Regions from separate parts of the Homo sapiens genome. Here regions 2, 3, 4, 5 and 6 are each reported to be linked to region 1. Evidence: microRNA targets listed by miRTarBase, many of them from high-throughput screens and not tested one by one. Region 1 holds a microRNA gene; each other region holds the end of a gene's coding sequence.
Evidence for each region. Region 1 holds the annotated microRNA hsa-miR-23a-3p (AUCACAUUGCCAGGGAUUUCC, at 3,931-3,951, shown strand). A microRNA usually pairs through its seed, bases 2 to 8, with sites in the 3' UTR of a target mRNA and lowers its output. Matches are read on the target gene's strand: a 7mer-m8 pairs with bases 2 to 8, a 7mer-A1 pairs with bases 2 to 7 and ends in A, and an 8mer does both.

Region 2: the mRNA of ACSS3 is a reported target of hsa-miR-23a-3p. Seed matches in the 3' UTR shown: 8mer at 956-963, 7mer-A1 at 999-1,005, 7mer-A1 at 2,189-2,195 and 8mer at 3,636-3,643.
Region 3: the mRNA of MAP1B is a reported target of hsa-miR-23a-3p. Seed matches in the 3' UTR shown: 7mer-m8 at 1,390-1,396.
Region 4: miRTarBase lists PKM as a target of hsa-miR-23a-3p. The part of its 3' UTR that is shown has no 7-base or 8-base seed match.
Region 5: miRTarBase lists ZNF138 as a target of hsa-miR-23a-3p. Seed matches in the 3' UTR shown: 8mer at 4,261-4,268, 8mer at 4,177-4,184, 8mer at 3,925-3,932, 8mer at 3,841-3,848, 7mer-m8 at 3,758-3,764, 8mer at 3,673-3,680 and 6 more.
Region 6: the mRNA of RPRD2 is a reported target of hsa-miR-23a-3p. Seed matches in the 3' UTR shown: 7mer-m8 at 3,555-3,561, 8mer at 2,086-2,093, 7mer-m8 at 1,502-1,508 and 8mer at 1,174-1,181.

Annotation. Positions count from the first base shown.
Region 1 is chr19:13,835,505-13,840,545 of GRCh38, reverse strand. It overlaps MIR23A (microRNA 23a), which reads left to right and starts at 3,887; the gene lies at 3,887-3,959. It overlaps MIR23AHG (miR-23a/27a/24-2 cluster host gene), which reads left to right. Exons shown (of 1, transcript NR_036515.2): 1 at 1-5,041. It overlaps MIR24-2 (microRNA 24-2), which reads left to right and starts at 4,187; the gene lies at 4,187-4,259. It overlaps MIR27A (microRNA 27a), which reads left to right and starts at 4,029; the gene lies at 4,029-4,106. RefSeq lists a silencer at 625-854 and enhancers at 1,275-1,374, 1,595-1,814, 1,845-1,954.
Region 2 is chr12:81,254,078-81,259,118 of GRCh38, forward strand. ACSS3 (acyl-CoA synthetase short chain family member 3) reads left to right here. Exons shown (of 16, transcript NM_024560.4): 16 at 780-5,041. The coding sequence ends at 845. PPFIA2 (PPFI scaffold protein A2) reads right to left here. Exons shown (of 33, transcript NM_003625.5): 33 at 3,898-5,041. Among named protein-coding and RNA genes, the nearest start is that of PPFIA2-AS1, 23 kb to the right of the region's middle.
Region 3 is chr5:72,204,839-72,208,838 of GRCh38, forward strand. MAP1B (microtubule associated protein 1B) reads left to right here. Exons shown (of 7, transcript NM_005909.5): 7 at 246-4,000. The coding sequence ends at 401. Among named protein-coding and RNA genes, the nearest start is that of MIR4803, 37 kb to the left of the region's middle.
Region 4 is chr15:72,195,616-72,200,656 of GRCh38, reverse strand. PKM (pyruvate kinase M1/2) reads left to right here. Exons shown (of 11, transcript NM_002654.6): 10 at 2-183; 11 at 901-1,628. The coding sequence ends at 1,007. It overlaps GRAMD2A (GRAM domain containing 2A), which reads left to right and starts at 2,870. Exons shown (of 12, transcript NM_001012642.3): 1 at 2,870-2,926. The coding sequence starts at 2,886. RefSeq lists a silencer at 2,723-3,142 and an enhancer at 3,253-3,432.
Region 5 is chr7:64,831,476-64,836,516 of GRCh38, reverse strand. ZNF138 (zinc finger protein 138) reads right to left here. Exons shown (of 4, transcript NM_001271639.2): 4 at 2,837-5,041. The coding sequence ends at 4,315. Among named protein-coding and RNA genes, the nearest start is that of ZNF138, 40 kb to the right of the region's middle.
Region 6 is chr1:150,472,399-150,477,439 of GRCh38, reverse strand. It overlaps RPRD2 (regulation of nuclear pre-mRNA domain containing 2), which reads right to left. Exons shown (of 11, transcript NM_015203.5): 11 at 874-5,041. The coding sequence ends at 4,106. Among named protein-coding and RNA genes, the nearest start is that of TARS2, 12 kb to the left of the region's middle. RefSeq lists an enhancer at 4,444-4,956.

The DNA of each region.
Region 1 (5,041 bases):
CTAGGATGTGGGGCCTCGGTGCCTGGGGAACTGACTTCGAAGATGCCAAGCCCCCTGGCCTCCCGCCTGGCCTAGGTTCTGGGGTCACCCTCCAGGACTGTGGTGGCCCACACCCTGAGAATGCCTTGGAGAGCCTAGAGGCCCTGAGCCTTGGGCCTGGGAATCGGTGCGTTGAGGGAGGTGGATAGGGCGCAGACACCAGTGACTGCATTCAAGGCCAGGGGACCCCCACAGCCAGGCCCTCACTGCAAAATGTACCTATGTGGGGAGAAGGCAGGGGTGGACCTGATGACGGGGTGTACCACTCTACTAAGGGTTCCCAACATGAAGGTGAGGGGGCCCCTGGGAATTCTGTGATTGGTCTGGGAAAGATTAAAGTCTAAGTGGGGGTTAGAGTGTGGACTGGCGGGACGCAATGGGGGCTGGGATGTCACTTTCATGGTTCCCCTATTTATAACAAGTGATTCAGCCCTCACTTACTCACCCCTTCCTGAGCCTCCCCCCACCCCAGCCCTGGGTGGGCAGCGGGGCCCACCCACTTGTCAGTGCCCTGACTTTCCCTACCCAGTGCCACCCTCTGAGGGCTGCCCATCGGGGCGGTTGTTATTGTCGCTGCACTGGGATTGGGGCAGAGGGGCGGGGGGCTCCTGGTCAGGCGGCGCTTGGCCGGGCAGCCCAGGTTGGCGGCTGGCTCGAGGCCCAGCCCACGGAGCTTCTGCTGAGAGTCTGGGCCCATTAGGCAAAGCGTTAGTGACAGGCTGGGAGGGCGGGTGGCGCGGCGGGCAGGGCGGGGCCTGCAGCCCTTGGTATTTTCCGATCCCAGCTGCTCTGTGAGGGTGGAAAGTATTTGGGGACCAGGCTTGGGGGCGGAGGTGGTGGTGGCGCCCCCGGCGGAAGCTGCCCCTGATTCATTCTTGGAGCATGGGGTTGGGGGGGTAGCGGTACACATACATACCCTTGTGTGTCTGGTCCACGCACACGCTGTCTGGAGGGGGTATTCAGGCATACCCACATGCATTGGCTGGCCGGGGTGTCCTGATGCAGCCTGGGGCCTGCTTTGCTCCCCAGCCCAGGGGCCCGCCCTCTCCCTCATGCCTCCAGCTGCTAGGAGCTTGGTTTCCCCCTGGACACCATCTCCCAAGAGCCTGAGAAGTGCACCATGATTGGTAAAGGGGACCCTGTCTCCTGGGCACCTGCATGGCAGCACCCCTTCCACTCAAGACCCAGACCTTTTGTGCCTGCGGGGATGGGGAGTGGCCTTGGCCCCGGCCCTGGGCTCTGTGCAGGGGAAACCCCACAGGAAACGAGCCTGGCCAAATGGCCGCCCTTCCCGTTCTCGTCCCTGGGACACGAATGTGCTGTCTCACTTCCGGAGGCGGCCCAGGGAGGCTGGCCGCCCTGCGGGGCCTCGCCTGCTCCCAGTTGGCGCCTCCAGACCCTAAGGGGACAGGGCTGGGCTGGGGCCTGATGGGAAAGAGTGGCTGGTATGTGTGTATGTGTGTATAGGGAGGGGACAAAACAGGACATCACTCGCCGCCTGTCTCGAAGTGGTGAGCGCCACCACATCGGGCGGACACTGGGGTCCTGGTGTGAGACACCCACGTTTCCGTTATCCTTTGCCTTGGCAAAGACAGCAGCAGCTCTGTCGTGATCATGTTTATCACTCATGGGGTCCTCACCATGACTTATGAAGTCCATACTTATTATCCCTGTTTTGCAGATGGGGAAGCTGAGGCCCAGAGAGGTTGAGTGACTTGCCCAGAGTCACCCAGCTCAGAAGCTGCAGAGCTGGGGCTTTCAAATCTGGGCAGACTTGGGCTCCAAAACTGGAGTCTGCTAGCCAGGTGTTGGGCTCTTATCAAAAGAAGCTCCACTCACTAAAGACTTAGGGCTGGCTTCATGCATTTGTGAAACGGGCAGTCTCACGGCAGCCCTGCTTGGAGGGACCTGGAGGTTAGTTTAATGTTGCACTGCTGGGGTCATGAATTTTTTTTTATTATTATTAATTTTTTTGTCTTGTATTGCCCAGGCTGGTCTCGAACTCCTGGCCCCAAGCGATCTTCCTGTCTTGGCCTCCCGAAGTGCCGGGATTATAGGGATGAGCCACCGCGCTCAGCCTGAAATTATTTTCTTTTTTTAAACTTGTTTTTGTTTATTTTAGAGATAGGGTCTTGCTCTGTCACTTAGGCTGGAGTTCAGTGGCATGGTCATAGATCACGGCAGCCTCAAACTCCTGGGCTCAAGCAGTCCTCCCACCTCAGCCGCCTGAGTAGCTGGGGCTACAGATGTGTACCACCACTCCTGGCTGATTTTTTAGTGAATTTTTTGTGGGCCAGACACTGTGGCTCAGGCCTGTAAGCCCAGCACTTTGGGAGGCTGAGGCAGGCGGATTGCTTGAGCCCAGGAGTTGGAGACCAGTCTGGGCAACATGGCAAAACCCCATCTCTACAAAAATTAGGGCCAGGTGTGGTGGCTCACGCCTGTAATCCCAGCACTTTGGAAAGCCGAGGTGGGCGGATCACCTGAGGTCAGGAGGTCGAGACCAGCCTGGCCAACATGGTGAAACCCCGTCTCTACTAAAAATACAAAACTTAACTGGGCGTGGTGGCGGGCACCTGTAATCCCAGCTACTCGGGAGGCTGAAGCAGGAGAATTGCTTGAACTCTGGAGGTGGAGGTTGCAGTGAACCGAGATCACGCCATTGCACTCCAGCCTGGGCGACAGGGCGAGACTCTGTCTCAAAAAAAAAAAAAAAGAAAAGAAAAAGAAAAAATTAGCCGGGCATGGTGGTGCATAGCTGTAGTCCCAGCTACCCCGGAGGCTAAGGTGGGAGGATCACTTGAACCTGGGAGGCTGAGGCTGCAGTGAGCTGTGATTGCACCCCTGCACTCTAGCCGTGGCGACAGAGTGAGACCCTGTCTCAAAAAAGAAAAAATATTTTTTTTTTTTGTAGAGATGGGGTATTGTCGTATTGCGCAGGCTGGTCTTGAACTCCTGGCCTCAGGTGACTCTCCTGCCTCGGCCTCCCAAAGTGCTGGGATTACAGGCGTGAGCCGCCATGCTTGGCCTGAAATTCTTAGTTTTCGAACTAGAGGACCACGTGTTCATTTTGCACCGGGTCCTGAAAATCCTGTATCTTGCCCTGGTGCTGGGCACTTACTGAGTGACATACATACTCGGTGACATCTCACTGGGCTATGCAAAAGAGGCTCTTGGCTCCATTTTACAGATGGGGAAACTGAAGCTTTGGAGAGTCTTTGGGAAACTGTGGAGCAAGGATTTGAACCTTGGGCTGTTTGGGTGGAGAGGCCTGTATCTTGGAGCTTGGATCCTGTGCTCTGGGGGGCGGGGGGTGCGTGTCTAGAAAGAGAGGGGGGTGCCTTGCTGCCGGCATCCGCCCTGGTGGGTGTGGGCTAAGCCCTGGCCACTGAGGAGACCGGGCCACGGGGGGGGAGGCCCTGGTGGTTTCCTCCTGCCCTCCAGGCTTCTAGGAAGTGGCGCCAGCTGGGGTGAGATCACTTCCTCACCCGCCTGCCTGGCCCCCCTTGGCTTCCTCTCCCCATGGCCCCATTTGGCCTGCCCAGGGCTCAATGAGGGGGGAGCTTGGCCATGCAAGTTGCTGTAGCCTCCTTGTCCCGCATGGGCCCTCTAGGTATCTCTGCCTCTCCAGTCCTGGGGCTGGAACGGAGGGCACAGCTAGGCTCCAGCTCCCCGTGTGGTGGCTCCTGCATATGAGAAAAGAGCTTCCCTGTGATCAAAGGAAGCATCTGGGGACCTGGAGGGGAGGTGTCCCCAAATCTCATTACCTCCTTTGCTCTCTCTCTCTTTCTCCCCTCCAGGTGCCAGCCTCTGGCCCCGCCCGGTGCCCCCCTCACCCCTGTGCCACGGCCGGCTGGGGTTCCTGGGGATGGGATTTGCTTCCTGTCACAAATCACATTGCCAGGGATTTCCAACCGACCCTGAGCTCTGCCACCGAGGATGCTGCCCGGGGACGGGGTGGCAGAGAGGCCCCGAAGCCTGTGCCTGGCCTGAGGAGCAGGGCTTAGCTGCTTGTGAGCAGGGTCCACACCAAGTCGTGTTCACAGTGGCTAAGTTCCGCCCCCCAGGCCCTCACCTCCTCTGGCCTTGCCGCCTGTCCCCTGCTGCCGCCTGTCTGCCTGCCATCCTGCTGCCTGGCCTCCCTGGGCTCTGCCTCCCGTGCCTACTGAGCTGAAACACAGTTGGTTTGTGTACACTGGCTCAGTTCAGCAGGAACAGGGGTCAAGCCCCCTTGGAGCCTGCAGCCCCTGCCTTCCCTGGGTGGGCTGATGCTTGGAGCAGAGATGAGGACTCAGAATCAGACCTGTGTCTGGAGGAGGGATGTGGTGGGTGGGGTTGGCTGGGCCCAAATGTGTGCTGCAGGCCCTGATCCCCAACTCTGCAACTGGGGACCCCTGCATGGCCACAGCTCAGGCTGGGCTGTGGTGCCAGCATAGATAGGTGGGTGAGTGGGTGGCCCTTCCATTAAAAGGGAAGCCAGCTGTGTCCTTTCCGGGCCTGGAGGCTTGGCCCCTCCTCTCCCAAGCCTGGCAGGGGCACTGGCCCGGCCCGCACCTTCCTAGCAGCCAGTTACCCAAGAGGAAGCTGCCTTGGGCCTCCAGACCGTTAAATGCCAACTCCTGGCTTCCGGTATCAGGCTGGGTTGACCTGACCTGGCCCCTTCTTGCTGGGCCCTGCAGCTTTCTAACTTGCCGGGAGGAGCAGTGACACCCGCCCCACATGTGGGGCATGGAACAAGTTCCTTGTGGACCCAGAAGGGACACAAGCAGGTGTGCTTAGTCCTGAGGCGCTGGGAATAGCTGATCCTCCCTGCCTTGAGGGGGTTCTCAGGGCAGGGAAGAGTTAGGACTCTGTTTTTTTTTTTTTGTTTTTTTTTTTTTGAGATGGAGTCTCGCACTGTCACCCGGGCTGGAGTGCAATGGCTCGATCTCGGCTCACTGCAACCTCCACCTCCCCAGTTCACACGATTCTCCTGCCTCAGCCTCCCAAGTAGCTGGGATTA
Region 2 (5,041 bases), not on the chromosome of region 1:
CTGTGCCTGGCTAATTTTTTTCTTTTGTATTTATAGAGGTAGTGTTCTCACCATGTTGCCCAGGGTGGTCTTGAATTCCTGGGCTCAAGCGATTTGATTGCCTCAACCTCCCAAAGTGCTGGGATTACACGCCTGAGCCACTGCTGCCTGCCAAAATATTTTTTCTCTTAGTAATTGTCAGTTAAATTCAAACAAATTTGTGGAAACTTAATCCTATTGAATTAAAAGGTACATTTTCCTTATTATAGTAATTAATGGCAATTAGTGAATGAGAAAGCAAAATAATTGAGGCTAGCGGCAGTAGATGTTTAAAATGCTCTAACTGATAAATGCTAATTTTGTAATTATTTTAGGAAATCTTAGGCTGATTCAATCATATGTTTTAATTTGTGTGTACATTATGTGTGCAAAGATATACCTATTTTTATCATTAAGATAATAAAAGGCAATGCAACAGTAAGGAGTAGTTATGTGAACAAGTGACAAAAAAGAAACATTCTTTCTACAGAAATATATAGAAGACTCTTAAGAGGAACTCCAACTCTAGAGAAAATACCATCTAGGTCCAATAGTTTTGCTAACTGAACTGTTTATTTTTTTACTCTGGAAAGCTACAGATGAGTATTAATATATTAGGTTCAAAGTTCCCTATTTTTAAACTTTCCATATGAATATTACAAGACAATGGGGAAAACAACATTGCATATAATTGTTTAATTATAGAAAGAGTAGAAGAAATTCAAGGAAGAGTATTCACCTGACCCTAATTTTTTTTCCAGATAACTTCTACAATTGAAGACCCCAGCATTTTTGGCCACGTAGAAGAAATGCTGAAGCAAGCATAATGAGTTTGTCTTATTCCTATTTTGAGTTGATTTAATTTCTTAATTGAAATTAAATTATTTGAGTTGTTTCTCAGAAATAAATATTTCAGTAGAAATTACTTGCAAAATGAAATGTGAATTGTAAAACTTGGCCTAAACAAATCTAATGAAAACATGTGAAAGACCTGTGCCTTTTTTTTGGTTTGACCCTGTTAGCATTGTTATTAGTTATCTATAACATGGCTTATTGAATGTCATCTACTGCTTTAGGAAAAACGTATCTAGTGTATTATTTTTAAAATTGTACCTCCCAAGAAGAACACTTTAATTGAAAGCAACACTAATATAGAGCCACTTCCTGAAACCAAGAATCTGTAGTTTTGATCCAAAATCTAAAACTTAAAGTCAGAAAATAATTAAAATTTTTCTTGTAGAAATTTTAGATATTTTCTAGTATTCTTTAGATGCTCACATTGTTTTAAATAAAATAGATGAAATGGGAAGTTTAGGTAATCATCTAGACAGATGAAATTATTATCTAGGTAGGAGGGCTTTTCTATACATTTTCTGAGGGAAAGCAGAACACCGGGGTTATAGCTATACCTTCAGGTCTTTTGTTACTTAGGCAAGGAAAACCACATGTCTGACCTGGTTCAGCATGTAATCCGAGCACTTTGGGAGGCTGAGGCAGGCGGATCACTTGAGGTCAGCAGTTTGAGACGAGCCTGGCCAACATGGTGAAACCCTGTAGCTACTGAAAATACAAAAATAAGCCAGGCGTGGTGGCGGGAGGCTGAGGCAAGGAGAATCACTTGAATACAAGAGGCAGAGGTTGCAGTGAGCCAAGTTCCCCCACTGTACTCCAGCCTGGGTGACAGAGTAAGACTCCATCTCAAAACAACAAAAACAACAAAAAAACCACATGCCTGGCGGAGAACAAAGAGATCATTTAGTCCAATCTCTTCATGGAGATGAGGGCTCCTGGGAGCCCCTCTTCATGTCTCAGGTTCTTAGTTGACTATGTTTATCCAAATGATTCCAGATTCCTGTGGAAACAAGGAATCGATGTACAAATGGGGTAGGGTGGCAAGGAAAACTCTTAAGAGAGAAACATCAAGGTTTTCACATTAGGTTAAAGACAAGAAGGTTTCTAGGCAGGTAGTGTAATGTCTAGGTGATTTTGAAGTGAACTTAAGCCACTAGGTTTGAGGGACAAAGGACAGTAGAAAATGGTGAAGACTGCAGATCACCTGCTATACCTCAAGGAGCAGCGGACCCAGCAGAATATGGCCCAAAAAGGAGGCAGGTCTCCTGTTGCAAGAGCCTCTGTTTTTTTAAAGAGAAAACAAAGAATCCTGGTTTTTATGTGAAATCTCTAATTTTAAAATAATAACTCATTAAAAATATTGTAATGTCCAAAAGTATCTTTCCATTTAACTTCTAAAAATCTCTTAAATGTTTTTTTTAAATAATTGTAAAGTGAGTTTTTGTTAAGCTTATAGGAATGGGCCAGTTAACTAAGGTAGACAGATGTAGGAAATTAAATATTTGATTTACTTAGGGATCTATATGACATCAGTTATCAAAGAATACATTTTAACCCAAAAGTATACCATGCTCATTGTATCTTTGATCGTTCTTCAAGTATTTCTCAATCTTTTAATCTATCAGGAACATTACTATCAAGAGCAGATTGTTGTAACATAATACTCAGGATACATGAAATGTATGTGAGAGATAAATAGATAATAGAAAGTTTATTGTTATAAAAATGACCTACAACTTATATAAAAAAATTCTGAAAATGTTGACTTTTTTTGGACTGAAGACTGCAAAATAAATGGCTTCTCAAAGTAAATTCCTATTTACTTAAATTGCCTTCTTGATTGTTACACCTGGAAAAATATATTCATCTACTTTTTCCTTTTAATTATGTTAGTAGACTGAATTAAACCAGCTACATAGACACTCTCTCATTTGAAGCTGTTGGGATCCTTGAGTTGCCTCTTTCATTGGTACGTTTTATCCATTGTCACAACTGTGGTCTTCATTAATAACTCATTTTAATGTCTTAGGAGTAGAATGTGTTTCCTTATTTTTTTTCAAATAAGAGTCAGTTAATTTGAAATGGCAAATTATTTACCTGAATGTGTATCATTGTTCATTTGCAAGGTTTAAGCTCAGGCAGATCCAATAATTAGGTAAAGGTTGCATCTTTGGTCCTCTTGCACATTTTTTCTGGTAATCAAATCTGAAGCGACATCTCAGCAAGCAGACTTGGGTTATTTTCCACTAGGATGGGAATGGAAAACAGTGCTGGAGACTGGGGAAGTGGCTATTTCCTGTGTCTCACTGGGGAATTGCAAGATCAAAGAATGTTGTTACTTTTATGTGATGAAAAAATAGGGCAAGAAAGATATACCTGAATCATCAGACTGCTTAAAATTTGGGAGGAAAAAATTCTATTTTACTACTAACCATAAATCACTTTTGCTAGATAGTACTTTAAAGATTCTGAATTAAATGTATCTTTAAAAACAACAATATAATATTACTAAAAAATGCAGACATACTTAAACTTGCTAGAATAAATTCTGTGAGGTCTTCGTTTGGTATTTTCATAGGATTTCTTACTGTTAAGTTATTGGAAAATGAAAATATAAAGTGCTTTCAGAAGTTATAGTATTTTCCAATTCATTGAATTACTTTGCTTGTGAAAATATATTAAACATATTTAAATGAGACCTATCCTACATTTAAAAACCAGTTTTGTTTATATAAAATTGTATTTGAAAGGTCCTGAACATTAAAAATGTGAAAATTTATAATGTTGATGATCAAAAGTAACGTGTTGAGACTCTGAGCTTAATCCATTAAATGGATTTTAGAATCTAGTAGAAGTTATCTTTCTTATAAATTAAAACATATTTTATGCTTCTTTTTTGAGGGAAATACCTGGATCTTTTGCATCACTATATGTTAGTGTCTATTATAGATGATTAATCTTTCTAACTTGATCTTTAAAAGAAAGAAATTGATTTTAGTGATTGAGTGTTATATAATAGTAGATACAAATCTAGTTATGGCATTATAATGTCGTAGTTCCTATATTCTATTTCATTTCTATGAATCAAGATGCCCATGTTTAGATGAGCTTAGAAAGCTACTTCTCATTGTTCCTACTCAGGCCACATTTTTAGAAAAAAATTTTAAGATCACTCCCATAAGCAAGTTTAGATCTCCCTCTTGTGGCAGACTCAATTTTGAAGCTAAATATTTGGGTCACCCAAAGAACACATTTCCTGATAGTTTAAGTAAATTGTCGAGCCTTATGTGACTAGAAAACAAAGCTTAAACAGAGAACTGGAATTATTATTTTTTTTATTGACAATGGAAAGGGTTTCTGTTATCATTACCTTTTGACTGAATCTGTTAAATAAAAATAGACATCAAAACAAATGTAATGTACGTGCAAACATAGCAAATTAAAATACAGAAAAGAAATTACTAATGACAGGTCTTGCGCTTAATAAGATCAAGCAGCAGAAAATCAGCAGTTAGATAAATGGTATTATTAAATAGGCTTTACTTTGAATCTCCCATATAAACAAAGAATAAACAACAGTAACACCACCAAATAAAGCCACAGGGAAGAGATTACTCTTCTATACTTTTATACACTATATATGTTAATCATTCTGTCTTTCATTTATTTCCTCTGATAAAACTGACTTCAGGGAAGTCGCAACAAGGCCATCTCGGCTAAAAGCTTATAACATTAGACATGAGTCTGGCTAATGCCCTGTTACATTGACAAAAGGGAAAGGTATCTTGGGTTTCGTTTTCTCTAGTGGAAATGAGCCTCAGACTCTGCGGTGGTTGACATTCACTGTCCAGTACTGGCTGGCATTTCAAGATATTTGAATGAACATGTGGTTCTTAGTAAAGAAGTTTTTTTATCTTTTTTTTTTTCTTGGTCCACAGGTAACAAGAGAAGATTATGGTTTTTTAATATAAATTTTTAAATAATTGCTTTTGACCCTTGTAAACAGCTTGGCTTTGTTTTGTATTGAAAAGGAGATCAAGCCATCACAGTGCTATTTCTAAAGATATAGGACATCCCTGATTGCCTTTAAAGCTCTATTTTTGGCTCCGGTTCCAGGTTAAATCATTCTTTTTTACATGATCAGAGGCAGGTTGTTCAGCTTTAAGTATTG
Region 3 (4,000 bases), not on the chromosome of region 1:
ACTGATTAATTGCTTTTTGGTTCCAGCCTTCAGTTTCCCTTAGAAACAATAGCTTTTCTTTGCAGCTTTATTCTGGTTCCTGGAAAATATACATTGAAAAATCCTTTGCATTTCTTGAGGAAAATAGAAAAGTTTTCTCTCATTTCCCTTCTTCTTCCAGTGGTCTAATACCTTGCTATTCAATTTTTTTCATATGGTTTCTGTTTCTGCCCTTAAATAGCTATTTTTTTTTTCTCTCCCTGCAGGTGACACTGATCCCAACTCATGACTCAGAAGTGATGAGGGAATGGTACCAGGAGACCCATGAGAAACAGCAAGATCTCAACATCATGGTTTTAGCAAGCAGCAGCACAGTGGTTATGCAAGATGAATCCTTCCCTGCATGCAAGATTGAACTGTAAAAACCAAGGCCAGCCACACCACAGGATCTGAACTTTGTTTCCAGAAATTCTTCAATTTGAAATCACCTTTTCTAAAAAGTCAATTCATCTAGTTAAGTCGCTGAACAATTACCTGCCAAATGCTATACTGTGTCATGGTGATGCAAGTCACTAAATTTCTCAGTTTTTGCTGATTGCTAAGGGAAATAACAGTATTTCCACAATAGGGTTCAAATTCCTGCAAAATTACCTACCCCAGTTCATCTCTGCTGAACATTTGGAAACCATGCACTAGCCAACCCAACTGACTTCTGCTAGGTAGAGGCATTTGTCTTAGAGAGAGAGAGAGCGCGGGAGAGAGTGAGAGAGAGTGAGAGCACAAAGATAACGCAGGAGAGAGAGAGAGAAAGAATGAGAAAGAAAAGGAATGCAAGAGAAGGAGATGTAATGACAGAGAGTTCTGGTGAGATACCCAGAGAGAAAAAGAGAGAGCAGGGTGGGGTAAGGAGGAGAAAATAAACCAACAATTAGGTCTGCATTTTCTCAGGCAGTAGGCATTCTTTAGTCTACATAGGCAAAGTTTTCCATTTTTGTCAGTCTGAGTCATCAAAAAGAGTCTTAATTTTCTAAAACAAGTTGGCTAGAAGAAAGTAAAAAGAACAACACTTGTTATGAGGGCATGTGATATTTTCACATCTTAATTAAGCTCCTTCAGTTTGAAGGCTGCACACTGACATAATGTAGTGAGTGTAGACTGGCCATGCAAGTGGTTTGGGCCCCATTCAGAACTCTCAGACTCTAAACACACAAGTAGATTGATCTAAGGCATGCTCCCAGCATTTGTCCACCCACTTAGTCCACTCTGAGTCGATTAACCTGCATGCAGCAACACCCAAGTCCACCCCAATTAACTGAAGCAAATACCAAAGCAGTTGGGAGTACATATGGTAGACAATTTGCCTTAGGAAGTGACTTGAATGTACAAAGATACTTGATGCACTTATTTTTTAATGTGAGACAGCAAGTTTATAAAACATCCATATAGGATTATAGATACTTAAAGGAACACGTGGGTGAGCGTGTGTGGGGGTACTAGAAGCTGATCTGATTGGTCCAACAGTTTGATGCTGAGTCATGCGTGTTGAATCCCACTTCAGTGCACCTGTGGCCTCTCAGTCAAACAAGTTGTGCCTTTCACAGCTTCTTTACTACTGCAAGTTCAAGACTGAAATGGCTTCTATGATCAGAACTGGGAAAACAGTGAATCTTATGGTGGAAGAGGTTCTCAGCAAGTGTACAGTATTTACCTTCCTTTGTCTTACATTGGCTTTTTAAATTTTCCATTAATTTCAACATAATTATGGGAACAAGTGTACAGAAGAATTTTTTTTTTAAGATATGTGAGAACTTTTCATAGATGAACTTTTTAACAAATGTTTTCATTTACAGGAAATTGCAAAGAAAATTCTCAAGTGATAGTCTTTTTTTTTAAGTGTTTCGTAAGACAAAAATTGAATAATGTTTTTTGAAGTTCTGGCAAGATTGAAGTCTGATATTGCAGTAATGATATTTATTAAAAACCCATAACTACCAGGAATAATGATACCTCCCACCCCTTGATTCCCATAACATAAAAGTGCTACTTGAGAGTGGGGGAGAATGGCATGGTAGGCTACTTTTCAGGGCCTTGACAAGTACATCACCCAGTGGTATCCTACATACTTCTTTCAAGATCTTCAACCATGAGGTAAAAGAGCCAAGTTCAAAGAACCCTAGCACAAATTTGCTTTGGGATTTTCTTTTCTGGAAAAAAAAAATAAAAGAAATAGTACATTGAAAACAAATGAATTCTCAACTCCTACGGTTCATGTAGAGTTTAGAGAAAATTTCCATCATTGTCATCATTGAACTGTGAACCTGGGAAGCCAGATCATGATTAACACTGACATCAAGTTTCAAGTTGCAGATCAATGCACCCAGTGTTCAGATGAGGCAAACTTCTCCGTGACAACTGTGCTGTGCTCTGTCACATTACATTTCCTGCAGACTCTAAGATCTACGGAGTAGAGAACAATGACCTCATTTTATTTTCTATGTTAGTTATTTATTTCAAAATTAACATTTTAGTTGATTTTTGTCTGATAAGTCTATGTTTTGCACTGCTAACTATGATGAGGGTTTAAAAAAATGCTTCTTCAGGGTCCTTTCACTGAGGACCTATGCAGTCTACTTAATGCTGTGAATTACATTTTTCAAATGTTTAATTTTTTAAAGAAAATTAATATTCTATTTTTGTTAGGCTTCTCTAGAAATGCAGCTTTTATTTATTACCCCATTTCTTTCAAGTCCTTGGAAAATAACATATTAAGGGTACAAGAAATTAACACATGATGGAAAAGTCATTGTGACGCCAATGAATTTCATTGAGTATAAACTCATCTACTTCAAATTTATTTTATAACACAACCTAAGATACTCAAGATAATTATTTAATGGTTAGCTCTTAAGTTGAATTGGTCTACATAATGCGTGGGAAGAAAACCAGATTTTTAGCCTTCTTGCCAAATCCAGACCTCTGGTTGATTTTTCTTTGACAGAAGATGCAAGTTATTTTCCAATTTCACAATTAAATGTATTTAACCTGAACATTATTTTGCTTTAAAAACTATAAACATTGTAGGAGAATTATAGCCAGTCTTCAGTTATAACCACTCCACCCTCCTCACTTTCTCTCTCTCTCTCTCTTTTTTTTTTTTTTTTTTTTTGCTATGGGATTTAATGGGAAAAATATGTAAAAACTGTCACTAGTCAGCTGGCTCTTTTTCCTATGAAATCTATCAGTACCTTTCTCCATCCGTTGTTCTCAATATGACCACAGAGCCTGAGTATACCAAGAAAACCAATATTCGCATTACAGGTTGCTCCTGTCCTTCCAGACACCTTTCCTGCCTGTGTGACTAACCTAATTTTGCTAGTTCCATAAATACACGATTAGTTTAGTAACAGCCATCACAATGTACCATGTACATTCATGGTGAGAGCTAAAGATCGACACAGACTTCTAGGAGCTTTGTTCATACTGATTACTTAATCCAATTGTATAGATTGAATATTTGAGTGGAAGGAATTTACACTCTGTTTAAATGATGGGATTCTATCGAGATAGCACTCATGATCATGACCTTTTTGGTAGTATTCTTAAACAAAATTCTACAGAGACTAAATGTTAGCGATGATCCTCCATTTTCAATTTTAACCAATTCTGTCCCCTTTCTCAAAACCCTGAGCCCTGTGCATGCTTTCTCAGTCTTGTGGTGGGACTGGATACAATGACTAACTTCCCCTCCTCCCCTCTTTAAACACCATTTTCCATGGAGTTCAAAAAAATTTTTTTTCTTAACGTTACATATCATAGTGAATGGTTTCCCCAGTGTATATGAATGTTTTAAGTGTCTCCAATAGCTTATGCAGTCTAGGAGCTTTCCAATACTCATTTAATTAAGATTTAATCATTTGCTAATGGAAATCTTACCACCTTTCATTTTCCCTCTGTTACCAAATTTCAGCTCTTAGGAGCTGCTCTACAATTCTGAATTTGCTTTTCTTGCCTCTCTTTAGTC
Region 4 (5,041 bases), not on the chromosome of region 1:
GGTCTGCTCACCAGGTGGCCAGATACCGCCCACGTGCCCCCATCATTGCTGTGACCCGGAATCCCCAGACAGCTCGTCAGGCCCACCTGTACCGTGGCATCTTCCCTGTGCTGTGCAAGGACCCAGTCCAGGAGGCCTGGGCTGAGGACGTGGACCTCCGGGTGAACTTTGCCATGAATGTTGGTACGTGGCTGGAGCAGGGGCTAGAGCCTAGAGGAGCTTGGGGATGCTTGAGCATTGGCTTCTGTGGGACCCCGAAAGTTTGGGGAATAGAAAGGGGAACACACAGACCTTAGTGGGGCAAAAGGCCCAGCGACTGTTCCTCTCCCTTATTGGGAATGTTCATTCTGAATCTCTCATTCTCCGAAGTCCTAAGCTGAGCCAGGAGGGAAAAGGGTCCTTTGAGTTGTAGGGCTGAGCAATTCAGTTCCTCTTCTCTTCTAGTCTGGGGCTCAAAGCAAAATTGTCCATTTTTTGGCATCTGCTCATTACTGAGAGTTTTTTTTGTTTTTTGTTTTTTTTTTAAATAAAATTGGCCACAGCTCCTGTGCTGTGGGGTGGCATACACAGATTACGTACTGATGTGGCCATTGTCCCTGTATAAGGTAGGGTATCATCAGATGACAGGAAGCAGCTAGCTCTGACCCTGGGCAAGGCTTTGCACCCTCTCCAGGATAGTGAATGATGTCCAAAGGTCCCTGCCAACCCTGCCATCTGAGTGATAAGGACATTTCAGGGCCTTCCTCCTGTTTGCCTGGGCTGTGAGTTTGGTGCCACCTTGTGGTGTGAGGAAGTAGTGGTCAGCCAGCCTAGTTCAGTACTCAGGCTATGGGGCAGCTGCCCAGGTGCAAACCTGCCTGGCTTGGCTTTTACTCACCAACCTCCCTTCTCTTCCTCCAGGCAAGGCCCGAGGCTTCTTCAAGAAGGGAGATGTGGTCATTGTGCTGACCGGATGGCGCCCTGGCTCCGGCTTCACCAACACCATGCGTGTTGTTCCTGTGCCGTGATGGACCCCAGAGCCCCTCCTCCAGCCCCTGTCCCACCCCCTTCCCCCAGCCCATCCATTAGGCCAGCAACGCTTGTAGAACTCACTCTGGGCTGTAACGTGGCACTGGTAGGTTGGGACACCAGGGAAGAAGATCAACGCCTCACTGAAACATGGCTGTGTTTGCAGCCTGCTCTAGTGGGACAGCCCAGAGCCTGGCTGCCCATCATGTGGCCCCACCCAATCAAGGGAAGAAGGAGGAATGCTGGACTGGAGGCCCCTGGAGCCAGATGGCAAGAGGGTGACAGCTTCCTTTCCTGTGTGTACTCTGTCCAGTTCCTTTAGAAAAAATGGATGCCCAGAGGACTCCCAACCCTGGCTTGGGGTCAAGAAACAGCCAGCAAGAGTTAGGGGCCTTAGGGCACTGGGCTGTTGTTCCATTGAAGCCGACTCTGGCCCTGGCCCTTACTTGCTTCTCTAGCTCTCTAGGCCTCTCCAGTTTGCACCTGTCCCCACCCTCCACTCAGCTGTCCTGCAGCAAACACTCCACCCTCCACCTTCCATTTTCCCCCACTACTGCAGCACCTCCAGGCCTGTTGCTATAGAGCCTACCTGTATGTCAATAAACAACAGCTGAAGCACCTGTTTCCTCTCTTTTCTGCTGGGGAGGGGGAGGTGGTTGAACCCTGCCCTCTGAGCAGGCTGGGAATGGCTGCAGCCTCGTGCCCCGCAGTGGGAGCTATGGTGGTGTCACCTGCCATCCTGCCCACCTCCTGGTGCAGAGGCGCTGGGAAAGCAGTAGCTTACTATCTTAGGGTTACAGGTTGCCCCCTTCAGTGCTGCGGGGAGACTTTAATGGCTTACGTGAACCGAAGATGGGAAAGAGCAGGGACAAGGCCTCCCTCCCACTCTGGTAGATAAACCCAAATTGCAAAGTGGCCTTGGCCATGGTTCTTCCACTTTGGTCTTCCTGCATTAGCGTATCCCTTATGGGGGCTGTAGGAGGAGTCAGCTCTGGGCGCCTGAGACTGGGTTTGGCTCCCAGGTCCTCAGTTGTGGACCTAGGCTCCCCTTGGGACCCCTCCTGTTTGCTGGTGCCCTCCCACCATGATGCTGTAGTGCCAAAGGGCTGGGGGAGAGAGTTGGGAATGGGACCAAATCTGGCCTGCGCTTTTCCTCTCCCCTGACCACACTCCCAAGGACCAAGTGTCCTGGTGGGGATGGAAGAGGAAAGGGCCTGCAGGCCAGGCAAAAGCTCATTGTCACACTGAGCGCACGTGCCTCTGCTTCCCTGCCTTTGATTTGTGTCCACCTTCAGCCCCTTTGCAGACTCCTCCAAAAGTGTATTTCCTTGGAGAAACTGCAATGTTAACTCCGGCAAAAGTGCGTGGGAGCATCCTGGCTCCCGGGTTCGTGGTGGTGACTTGGCTGTCAGACCATGGTGTTCAATATCCCCTTTGGTGTTCCCCACTGACGGTAAAATTGAAACTTATCCGGAGCTCTATGTTGGGAAGGGTTAGGTTGGAGAGGGGCCGGAATTGGTTCCTGCAGAGGGACCCAAGCCGCAAGACTAGGACGACAGAAGCGTCCAGAGGGGACACAATACCCTCGACGTGAGGGACAGGAGGTGCCGCGCCAGGCCCTGGCCTCCGGGACCTCCCAGTCCGGGGAACCGAGCGCTAGGATCTGCTCAGAGCTTGGAGCCCCACCTGGGGAAGGTGGGGAAGGAGAGAAGCTGGGGAAGCTGGGGAATGAGGGGGAGGAACGGCCAATGGGCTGTGCCCGGCCCGCGCGACCCGCCAATGGGCGGGCGGGCGGGGCGGGCTCTCGACGGGGCGGGCGGGGTCCGGCGGGCGCTGGGTCCCGGCGCGCGGTCGGGGCGCTGGGTGCAGGCGCCGGGATGACCGCTTTAAGCCGGAGCGAGGCCACCGAGGAGGGCGGGTAAGGGGTTGCGGCCCGGGGGCCGGTCTCGGGGGTTCCGGAGGCCGCCGCGAGGGGCTGCTGCCGCGCGGGGCAGGACGGCTCCTGGGGCCGCGGCAACTCGGCGCGTTCTGCCCACGGGGCAGGCACTTCCCGGCCGCCGGAATGCGGGCTCCGGGCCAGAGCTGCACCGCGCGCCCAGGCGTCTCCCGGGGCCCGCGAGGTGTTCGCACTAGGACCGGGTGTCTTGGCTGAGTCTGCTGCGACCTGGGGGATGAGGGACGGTCCCGGCAGCATCGGGGCAAGGAAGGGCACCCTCCTCGGGACGCCCCGCATGGCCCATCTCCGCCTCGCCACTCTGTTCATCCTTTCATTTATTCATTCATCATTCGTTGCCCGCGGTATCGACTCCCAGTCCTAATTGCCCCCGACCCAAAGGTTGGATTTCCCTGCGTCCCCTGGAGGGCCAGACTGTTTCCTCTCGCCGCCGAATCCGTATTGTAGCGGCCCGCGGCTGCGGGGAGGCAGCTCGGAGCTGTCTCAGCACGACGCGGCCTCCCCCGGGCGCCAGGCCCATCCCGGTCGGGCGGGCTGGGGCCGGTCTCCCGGCCTCGAGACCTGGTCCAAAGTCGCCCTGGGAGAAAGGGATAAGGAGGCAGGGCAGACAGGAGCTGGCGCTGCACGTAACATCCAGAATTGTGGTTTCTGCTGCTTGAGGTCTTAGGGTCCTGGGAGTGACATTGTTTGGGGGAACCTGTCAATTCCTGCCCCGGTCCAGGTTCCAAGCCGCACAGCCTAAGGTCGGGTACAGCCTGGCATCCTCGGCCAGCTAGCACTGGGGCAGGTAGGATGAATGTGTGAGCCTTGTGTCCAAATCAGCCCGAGACACACAGGGATGTGGACCCCAGCGGGACTCCCTCTGCCTTATACTCAGAGGGACTGGTGGGGCTCCACCCCGCTGTCGTCTGTGTCTCTGCTCTGCTTGCCGCCCCACTCACTATGCTTGATTGTTTAAAGGTGCCCCTCCTTGCAGGGGCCAGGCTCCTAGGGAACGAGAGAGGGTACCCTCGCAACCTGATGTCTTCACCCCATGTCCACCTGTAGCCGGCTCTAAAGTCTGGCTCCTTTCAGAGCAAAGACTTATGGCCTTGCTGGGAGAGGTAGAATAGAGGGTGTCTATCCCATTCTTCAGTGAGGAGTCAGTATGCCCCTCCTTCTTTTTTCTTTTTTTTTTTTCTGAGACAGTTTCACTCTGTCACCCAGGCTGGAGTGCCGTGGTGGGATCTTGGCTCACTGCAACCTCTGCCTCCCAGGTTCAAGTGATCCTCCTGCCTCAGCCTCCCGAGTAGCTGGGATTACAGGTGCCCACCACCACGCCCAGCTAATTTTTGTATTTTTAGTAGAGATGGGGTTTCACCATGTTGGCCAGGCTGGTCTTGAACTCCTGACCTCAGGTGATCCACCCACCTCAGCCTCCCAAAGTGCTAGCATTACAGGGACTACAGGTGTGAGCCACGTGCCTGGCCCCCTCCATAGTCTTCTGATCAGGCTGGCTGGAGACCATGCTGCAGACACTCTTAGGTTTAAGTTTTAGTTTGACAGGCATTGAGGTAGCCTCAGTGGGCACCTCTGGGACAAATGGGCAGGTCCAGAGGGGAAAGCTGACAGAGGCCCCATCGAGCTTCCAGGAGAGTTTAGGCTGGGGCCAAATAGAAGTTCTCCTTCCCAACTTCCCCTTGGGAGAATTTTCTGAATAGCCTGAAGAGGGTAGCTCAAGCTCCATCTGTGCCTTGATGTTGCTGGCTGCTTTCAAATTTCTTTCTTTTTTTTTGAGACGGAGTTTTGCTCTTGTTACCCAGGCTGGAGTGCAATGGCGTGATCTCGGCTCACTGCAGTCTCCGCCTCCTGGGTTCAAGTGATTCTCCTGCCTCAGCCTCCCGAGTAGGTGGGATTACAGGCATGCGCCACCACACCCGGCTAATTTTGTATTTTTTAGTAGAGACGGGGTTTCTCCATGTTGGTCAGGCTGGTCTCCAACTCTCGACCTCAGGTGAGCTGCTCACCTCAGCCTCTCAAAGTGCTGGGATTACAGGTGTGAGCCACTGCACCTGGCCTCAAATTTCTAAATTTAGCAAG
Region 5 (5,041 bases), not on the chromosome of region 1:
CACAGAACTTTTATGTATCCAGTAGCTAAGATCCGCATTGCCAGGACCCTTAAAACCACTGTCACAGGGTTATCCGACTTAGCCTCCTCAATCCAGTCAGCCGAGAAAGAGCTTGCCAGCCAGCTTCAACCGGCAGCTGACCAGGCCAAGTCCTCCCCCTTCTCGTGGTTTTTAATTTCAGAAGGTGCACAATTGCTCCAATCCACAGGGGTACAAAACCTCTCCCACTGCTTCCTCTGTGCAGCCCTCGGAAGACCTCCCTTAGTAGCAGTTCCTCTCCCTACCCCCTTTAATTATACAAGAAATTCATCCACCCCTATACCACCGGTCCCAAAAGGACAGGTCCCACTATTCTCAGACCCTACAAGACACAAGTTCCCGTTCTGTTACTCTACCCCAAATGCCTCTTGGTGTAACCAGACCAGGATGCTTACCAGCGCCCTGGCACCACCCGGAGGCTACTTCTGGTGTAACTCCACACTAACTAAAGTTCTTAACTCAACTGGTAATCACACCTTGTGCTTACTCGTCTCTCTCATCCCTAGCCTGACCCTATATAGTCAGGACGAACTTAGCCATCTGCTAGCCTGGACCGAGCCAAGGCTGCAAAATAAAAGCAAACGGGCTATTTTCCTACCCTTAGTACTAGGCATCTCCTTAGCCTCCTCCTTAGTGGCATCAGGGCTAGGAAAAGGAGCCCTCACCCACTCAATCCAAACATCTCAAGATCTGTCTACTCGCCTGCAGTTGGCCATTGAGGCATCGGCCGAGTCCCTGGCCTCCCTACAGCGACAGATCACTTCGGTAGCACAGGTCGCAGCACAGAACAGGCGGGCCTTAGACTTGCTTACAGCAGAAAAAGGAGGGACATGTTTATTCTTACAGGAAGAATGCTGCTATTATCTCAACGTGTCAGGGGTAGTTGAGACCAATTTACAAACTTTAAAAAAAAAAGATCCAAGAGGAGTTAAAACATTCCTAGGACCCTCTCCACCCTGGTCCTTCTTGGTGGTTTTCACCTGTGGTTCAACAGATGCTCCCTTTCCTTATCCCAATTATAATTCTCTGTATAATAATGTGTTTTGCCCCAATCCTAGTACAGTTTCTCCGCCAGCGGATACAAGAAATCACCAGGGTCACTTTCAACCAGATGTTACTTCACCCCTACGTCCAACTGCCAACCTCTGATTTAGGCCCTCTCCCCAGTGACACCCCTTAACAGCAGGAAGTAGCCAGATGATTTCGTCGCCCCTTTTCTATAACCAAAAATAGGCTGGACTGATTGGACTCCAGTGAAGACTCCAAGATGGCGATCACCACCTCAGATACCCCGACTCAGCATTTCCGGGTTCACCTTTCCTGTTCCCGTCACCCCGACTAACGCGCATGCCCACTAGGGCGTGTCACACTCAGAAGTGTGAAACTCAACCGACCCCGCCCCTACCCTGCCCACTCCTCACCCAGCATCCATAAAAGCGCGCTGCACCTTTGGCACAGTGCGACTTCCCTGGCCCTCCCCCTGTGGACCAGTGAACCTCGCCCGAGAGCTCAATAAAGATTTTTGCCCTCTTTGTCTCGCCTCTTGGCCTTATTGATCCACGGTGCCCTTCCATTGCCTTTCAAACTGTACTGCATTTTATTACATAAAAGTACAATTAGTAAAATTATATACTAATTAATTTTAACTAAAATTATTTTGTTTGGAGTATAACGCAGAATACTACTCTGAACACTTACCTCATACATCACTCAATATTATAAATTAAACACAAAGAGCCTCTCCACTTAGACTTTTGTCATGCATCCTACATTGTAATGTCTTTACTCTTCCATAGAAAAATTCAAAAACAATATTGACATAACAAAAAAGAATCTCTCATACCTTTGATGCAGCAACAATTGATCACATGCTTTCACTAGTGAATGCAATAGGAATGAAGAGCATGAAGTAATTTGAGTTGAATTACATTATTCACTTTTCATAAATTCTGCAATTTTTTTCAAGGAAAAAAGTATACTTTGAATGTAATTGTAACTCTGCAAAAATATTTCTACTTCTTTTAAAGTTATGTACAAATAATTTATCTACCCACTTTAGTTTTGGGTTATTTTATATACTCAGCACATTTACTTAGTGCAATGTTTGAAGTGTCAGTGCCTTAGATATTTTTACTGTGAATTCTCTGATACTTACGTAGCCTTATTTTTGATTTTTTTTATATTTACTGCATGTGGAAAAATATAGTTTAGTATGCATCCCCTGGTGTTTTCTAAGATGTAGTTTTTGAAAAATTTTTGAAATGTATTACATTTGTAGTTTTTCTCCGATATAAATTCCCTGATGTTGAACGAAGTTTGAGCAACTGCTTCGGATACAAAATGTGTACAATAAGATCTGTGATACAAGTAAGGCAGGCACTACAACCCTCTTTATGTTTCTAATGTTTGTCTTCAAAATAAAAACTCTTTTTTTACTTTAAAGGCTTATATTGGCTGGGAACAGTGGCTCACACCTGTTATTCCAGCACTTTGGGAGGCAGAGGTGTATGGATCATTTCAAGTCAGGAGTTCGAGATGAGCCTGGCCAACACAGTAAAATCCTGTCTCTACTAAAAAATACAAAACTTAGCCGGGCGTGATGGTACATGCCTGTAGTCCCAGCTATTCTGGAGGCCCAGGCAGGAGAATTGCTTGAACCTGGAAGGCAGAGGTTACGGTAAACCAAGATTGCACCAGTGCACTCCAGCCTGGGAGAGAGTATTACGTAGTCTCATTTAAAAAAAACAAAACAAAACAAACAAACAAACAAACCACACACTAAAACAAAACCTTATGCTGAGTTTTGACAGTAATTGCATTTATAATGCTTTTATTAAGTACTAACTCTCTAATGTTGAATAAGATGTAAGCACATATTAATGGCTTTTCTACATTCTTTATATCAGTACAACATTTTCTGAAGTATAAATGCTTTCCTGTGCAATAAGGTATAGGAATTAAAGTTTTGCCATATTCTTCACACTTCTGGGAGTTTCTGCCAGTATGAATTATCTTACCTACAATCAAGTGTGACAACCATTTAAAGGCTTTGTCACATTCTTCACATTTTTATAATTTCTTACCAGTATGATTTCCTTTATGTTTAGAAAAATTTGAAGGTTTTGTTAAAATCATTTTCACATTTTTCTGGTTTGTAACATTTTCAGTATTAATTTTGTTTAGTAAGATTTGAGAATTGGTTAAAAGCATTACCACATTCTTCATATTTGTGGGGTTTCTCTCCAGTATGAATTATATTATGTGCAGAAAGGGTTGAAGACTTGTTAAAGAATTTACCAAATTTTTCACATTTGTGGTGTTTCTCTCCTGCATGAATTTTAGGTGTAAGAAGTTTTGAGGATTGTAAGTTTTACCACATTCTTTGAATTTCCAAGGTTTTGCTCCAGTATAAATTATCTTATGTATAGTAAGTGTTGAGACTTGGTTAAAAGCTTTGCCACATTCTTCACATTTGTAGAGTTTCTCTCCAGTTTGAATTTTCTTATGCATAGTAAAGTTCGAGAACTAGTTAAAACAACTGCCACATCGTTCACATTTGTAGGGTTTCATTCAAGTGTGAATCATCTTATGTATAGCAAGTTGTGAGAACTGGTTAAAAGATATGCCACATTCTTCACATTTGTAGGGTTTCTCTCTAGTATGAATCTTCTTGTGTTTAGTAAGGTTTGAGAGTTGGCTAAAACCTTTGCCACATTCCTCACATTTGTAAGGTTTCTCTCCAGTATGAATGATCTTATGTGCAGTAAGAGTTGAGGACTTCTTAAAGACCTTGCCACACTGTTCACATTTGTAGGGTTTCTCTTTACTATGAATTTTCTTATGTCTCATAAGGTGTGAGGACTGGTTAAAAGCTTTGCCACATTCTTCACATTTGTAGGGTTTTTCTCCACTGTGAATTATCTTATGTGTAATAAGAGTTGAGGACCAGTTAAAGGCTTTTCCGCATTCTCCACATTTGTGGGGTTTCTCCCCAGTATGAATTTTCTTATGTGTACTAAGGATTGAGTATCGGTGAAAAGCTTTTCCACATTCTTTACATTTGTAGGGTTTTTCTCCAGTATGAATTAACTTATGTTCAGTGAGCTTTGCGGACTGGTTAAAAGCTCTGCCACATTCTTCACATTTGTGGGGTTTCTCTCCGCTATGAATTATCTTATGTGTAATAAGGGTTGAAAACTGGTTAAAGGCTTTGCCACATTCTTCACATTTGTAGGCTTTCTCTCTAGTGTAAATTTTCTTATGTTCAGTAAGTTGTTAAGATAGGTTAAAAGCTTTGCCACATTCCTCACATTTGTATGGTTCCTCTCCAGTATAAATTATCTGATGTTTAGTAAGGGTTGGGGACTGCTTAAAGACCTTGCCACATTGTTCACATTTGTAGGGTTTCTCTTCAGTATGAATTATCTTATGTCTAGTAAGGTGTGAGGACTGTTTAAAGGCTTTGCCACAGTGTGCACATTTATAGGGTTTTTCTCCAGTACGAATTATCTTATGTTTAGTAAGGATTGAGGATTGGTGAAAGGCTTTTCCACATACTTCACATTTGTAGGGTTTTTCTCCAGTATGAATTTTCTTAGGTTTAGAAAGGTTTGTGGACCAGTTAAAGGTTTTTCCACACTCTTCACATTTGTAGAAATTCTCTCTAGTATGAATTTTTTTATGTTGAGTTAGGCGTGAAAGCATGCAAAGTGATTTGTCACATTCTTTACATCTGAAATGTTTATTTTCAGTATGTCTTATCTTGTGTCTATTTGAATTTGAAAATTTATGCATGACTTTTACATATTTATTACATTGAAATATTTTGCTTGTGGTAATTTTCAAACATTGGTTAAGTCCATTAAAACCTCCTTGGTGTCCCTTACACTCATCCACACTTTTACAGCCTTTTCTTAACTGTAAATTCTTATGTCCATATTTTCCATATCTGCTCAGTGTCACTTTTTGGAAAGAATCTTTTATGTTCTGCTCTAGCCAAAGG
Region 6 (5,041 bases), not on the chromosome of region 1:
CAGCCTCACTGGGTTATGAACAAGGGATGGGGTAAGACAGAAGGGTTAAGTGTGGCTTCTGCACAACAGATTGCCAATATGCAGTAAGGGCAGATGTGGGCAAATAATTGGCCAGAAGGATCCCTGCTACCACCCCAAACCCCCAATTCTATGCTTGCTTTAAAAATGCTTCTTGGCTCACAGTTGCACAACCTTTTGAAGACATGCACAAAAAATTATTAATACAGTATATCCCACTTCACCAACCACTCCCTGAACATCTAGAACTCACCCGACCCATTATCCCTTTCCAAAATTCAATTACACAAAGGATCAAACAGAAAACCCACAAGGCCATAAAGATCTTAAGAGGCTCAGATTGCCTTCAGTGACATTAAGTGCAGAAGTCAAAGGGGACATCTGGAAAAGATCAACAGGAGGGGAAAAGTCAACCACACAACAAAGGAAACCATACTTTATTAAACTGGAAAACAAAATAATGGGGACAAAGGGATTAAAAAAAAAAGGAACGTCTGGAAGAGAGTAAAGTGCAAGTGGTTACGAAGTGGGTGGTCTGTGGTATCTCTGTGTGTGCCTGAGAAATGTGTGGGCGCACACACCACTACTCCCACCCCCATACCCTTGGACCAAAAGCCAATACAACCATATCTTCTGAGATATATCCAGGCTTTTCCTTCTGCATTCTCTAGTTGGTTTCACCTTCGGCCCTGGACAGTCAGGCTGGGTCTTTGCTAGAGAAAACTTAGGTTTTCCAACCACAGGCCTGCTCCACAAAGCAGCGGTTTCAGCTCCTGAGAAGTTCCCTCCTATTTGCACTCACTAGGAAGCCAGGGGCCCCTGGTCCAAGCCCGTCTCAAAGAAAAATGTCAAACCTTTCAAACTAGTTATTTTATTAAACGATATTAACACACATTTCAAAAGGATTTCATTGTTGTTGCTTCTAAAGCATGTACTTGTTTTGTTTTCCACACCGAACACGTGAGAATATCAATCCAACATATCTATTTTAGATCTTAACAGGCGCCCCCGCCCACTTAAAAAAAATAGTGGGGGAACTGGGGAAAGCAGTAATTTACAGCGGCTTCAAAACAGTAACAGCTGAAGCTCAATTCTGCAGGAACCGGTAACTTCAGGATTGAGAGTGAATATCCTGCCATTAGGAAGTTTATCGTATTCACATTATCTCGATAGGTTTGCTGGACCCATATATATCACAAACATTTTATTCCTGGTATTGGAAAGTATAAAAGTCCTATTCTCTGCTTATTTTCCCCTCCCTGGAATCAAACCAAATTCTATTTACTCTCAACTTTTGAGAGGGTAGAGGGGAGCAGGGAGAGAGCTCTCATCTAAGCTGACTGAAGAGTAAACTCTTTCAAAATACTTAAGGACCCTATTTCTGAACTGTATCACTGAACTTTAAGTGGTACTAGTGTATTCACAACCCCTACCAATTCTCTGTCTGTGATTTTACAGTGAGTACCAAGGACCTTACAACTTCTCACATTCTGCTTCCATATGAATCATGTCCTTGCTAAGACACACTATGTTATGCTTTCTTTAAAAAATATCTTGTTTATTTGTTTAAACTCAGGTTGAAATACAAAAGTCAGAGCATGGTCACGGAGTTTTAAATCACAGACACAGAAAGAATAAAACCCCTTTCTTTCACGTTATGAATACCAGAACTGTCTTTTCTGTTTCACTATTTATCACATATATACACACTGTCATCTTCATTTACTGATGTAAATGTAAATTTTAAGATTTCCTTAAAATTAATAGCTGACAGTCTCATACAAATCCTCACTTCCATCCTAAAACAAACATATTGAGGATTTTGTGGCTTAAAAAACAAAAAAGTACCCCACAAAAACCCAACTCCTTAAAAGCCCACCTTCGAAACTGTCCAACAAAGTCTTCCTTTCATGTATTAACCATCATACTTTTGAGGACAATTATCCCGCCCCAACGTTCAGGAAGCCACTTTCCTGACATCCCCACATTTTCTGATAAAAATTAAATGGTCAGAGAGCCTTATCAAGTAAACACTACTTTTAGCTTAAACAAGAGCAGCAAAGAGAATTCACATTCTTTTATTCTAGAATGAAAAACATCCCATTTAATTTCTGCAAAAAAAAAACCTATTTCAATTTTGAAAGTCAAATATCATTTCCCCACCTCCCACCCCATTTTCTCTTATGCTTTTCCCTAACAAATGTCTTAGGACTCAATATAACTATACTTTCTTTTCTTTGCTACACTACATACCCCATCCCACACGTAAGGTCATGGTATCATGCATTTTTGTGGGGAGAGCTACAGGGCAGAGAGGGTCGAGGAAAGAAAGAACAGTTGGCTTAAGACCAGACAGGCATTAAGAAGATGAATGACCTGCAGCATCCTAACCCCAGAACACATGGCGAGCCCAAATAAATAACAGAATAAATTACGCAAAAACTCCCAAATCATGATGTGCACCTGGTTTATGCTGCTCTTTCTCTGAAAAGTTCATTCTGAGAGAATCATTTTCTGTCACTACATTGCCCACCCTCCCCCATCTTTAATATTCTACTGGAGGAAAAAGCAACCCCATACTTCCTATAGTTAGTTCTATACTAACTTGGAAGAAAATATGAAACTTGCCAGAATTCTCTGGAAAACTAAACACATACTGTTTTACTCATCTAGCTGGAGATTATCAGTTGAGTATGCCTTGGGGTAAGACACTAAATTAAAAAAAAATTGTAGTAAAGCAACATTTACTTTTCAGTGTCCCTAGATATAAAGATATAAACACTCAAAGTACAGTGATTGTCTATTTCCCAAGTACTAGATGTAGAAATACAAACAAGTCTTTCAGTCCAGGGAGAAGGAAAGCACTTATCTTGCATGTAAAACAACTAAGGGCAGAAATGGTCTTTATTTCCTATTGGGAGCGAGAGGTGGGGGTAAGACTTGAGCCTTGAAATGGGATAGACACATGTGTATAATATAAAGGAAAATGCTACTGAATCTCCTCCTTTAAAATATCAAGAATAGGGGTGAATAACACGACTGAGGCAAGGGGAAAAGGAAGATAAAGACAAATATTTCTTTCTTTAATAGTTAACCTTTGTTGAAAACCACCAATAAATATCACTTACATTAGGGAGGCACCATGGTAAAATTAATGTCTACTTCTTATATTTAAAAATGCAGGGATAATATTTCTGTTGCACCTTTGTATCAATAGTCAACTGTAGTGACTGTCTTTCTGGCCACAGCAGAAGAAAAACTGAGGGAGATAAAGTCAAAAAGGAAAAGCAAGAGGCATGAGCTTGGTGCAAGACATGTGAAACTACCTTGAAAACATTTCCTATTCTCTTGTTTACAAAAAAACAGGCAGGTCACATCACACCATTAATGCTTCCTTTCCTTATTTTACATACTGTAGTCACTCCTTATTTTAACCTTGAGGCTGATTAAAAAAAGATTTTAGGAGAAGGGTAAAGAACTAAACTTCAACATGCCTTTAAAAACAAAACAAATAAACCTGACAGGTTCAAGGTCTCTCACATTTCCTCCCTTGCAACATCTCTTGGCTGTTAGCAGGACACAGATACACAGGGAAGGGAGCCGAGCTGGCTACAGCAGTTACTAAGCTGCCGAGAGAGGGGACGGGAATCCTTCCATTGACTACTCGATAAGCCAAGCCCAAAATAACATCCCAACATTGCACATGTGGTTATCTGTACTGATGGAAGTTTTATTTCAAATGTAATAATACTCTTCAATAGATGGGGTAAAATAAAGATTGTTTTCCTCCCCACTCCCCAACCCCCCAGCCAAATGAAATGGCTTTGGTTGTGTTTCTTTACTTTTTTTTTTTTTTTTTTTTTTTAATACAAACAACTTGGGGAAGGTAGATAAGTGCAATGGGAGGGAGGATTGAATTGAATAGTAAAACGTAAGCGTATGTGATTTCTTACTTTGGAAGAGAGGCCCTTTGTTATAATAAAAAAAAAATCGAGAAAGAGAAAACAAATAAAAACAACAACAATAAACCAAACTCCTACTTCCAATGTTCTCTAGACTGTTCAAAATGCCTTTCCCTTGGTTTCCATCAGTACCTGGGAGGGAAGAATGGGCGTTTTGGTGCAAAGAACGGAGGGCCCCTAGCAAAAGGTGGCCTGGGTCTCTTTAAACTGTGAAATGGGTCTCTGCTGAGAAAAGGTTCCCTAGGCCGAAAGTCTGGCCGGGGACTCCGTAAGATTATACCACTCCGGCTGATGGTGTCTCTGTGTGAGGGACCCAAGGGGGGGCCACTGCTGCTGTTGCTGCCTCCCCCACCTCCTCCTCCATGGGGTGGGCCCAGGTGTTCCAGAGAATGGGAGGGTAGGGTGAGGCTCTCTCGTACACGGCTAAGGCCAGGGCCGTTGAGGTCCCGTTGGGTGGGGCCCCCGTGGTCCCTGGGTCCTGGGAGTACCCCAAAATGCTCAGCCAGGGTCCCTTGAAGGAGGGAACTATGGTCCTTGGGAAATACTGCCACAGCCCCTGCCACTCCGTGCTCTGCCAGTGGTGGGGCTGGGAAGGGTACAACTCCAGAGTGGTCAACAGGGGGTGGAGGAGGGGGTGGAGTAGAAAAGGGGACACCACTCCCACCACTGCTGCTATGTTCCCCAGGAGGGGGAGGAGGAGGTGGGGTAGGGAAAGGAATTCCACTGTGCTCTCCAGGAGGAGGGGGTGGGGCAGCATGGGCCAGGGCTGCCTCCTTTGTGAAGGGGTTCGAAAGATCCACAGAGGGTAGATGAGTGGGTGCATCTCGAGAGAAGATACCACCATGATCCTTAGGAGGGACAGGTGGGGCAGATGATGGCCCCACTGGCTCTCTCTGGAAGGGTGTCCCATGTTCCAAGGGGGATGGGGGAAGATGATGCTCAAATGTTGAGTTGAAACTGTTGGAACGAAAGCTGCCGACACTCTCCTGAAATTGAGGTGCCCGTTCCTTGTATGGTGCTGTTTTAAAGCCAGTGAGGCCTCCGCTGCCCCCACCCCCAAG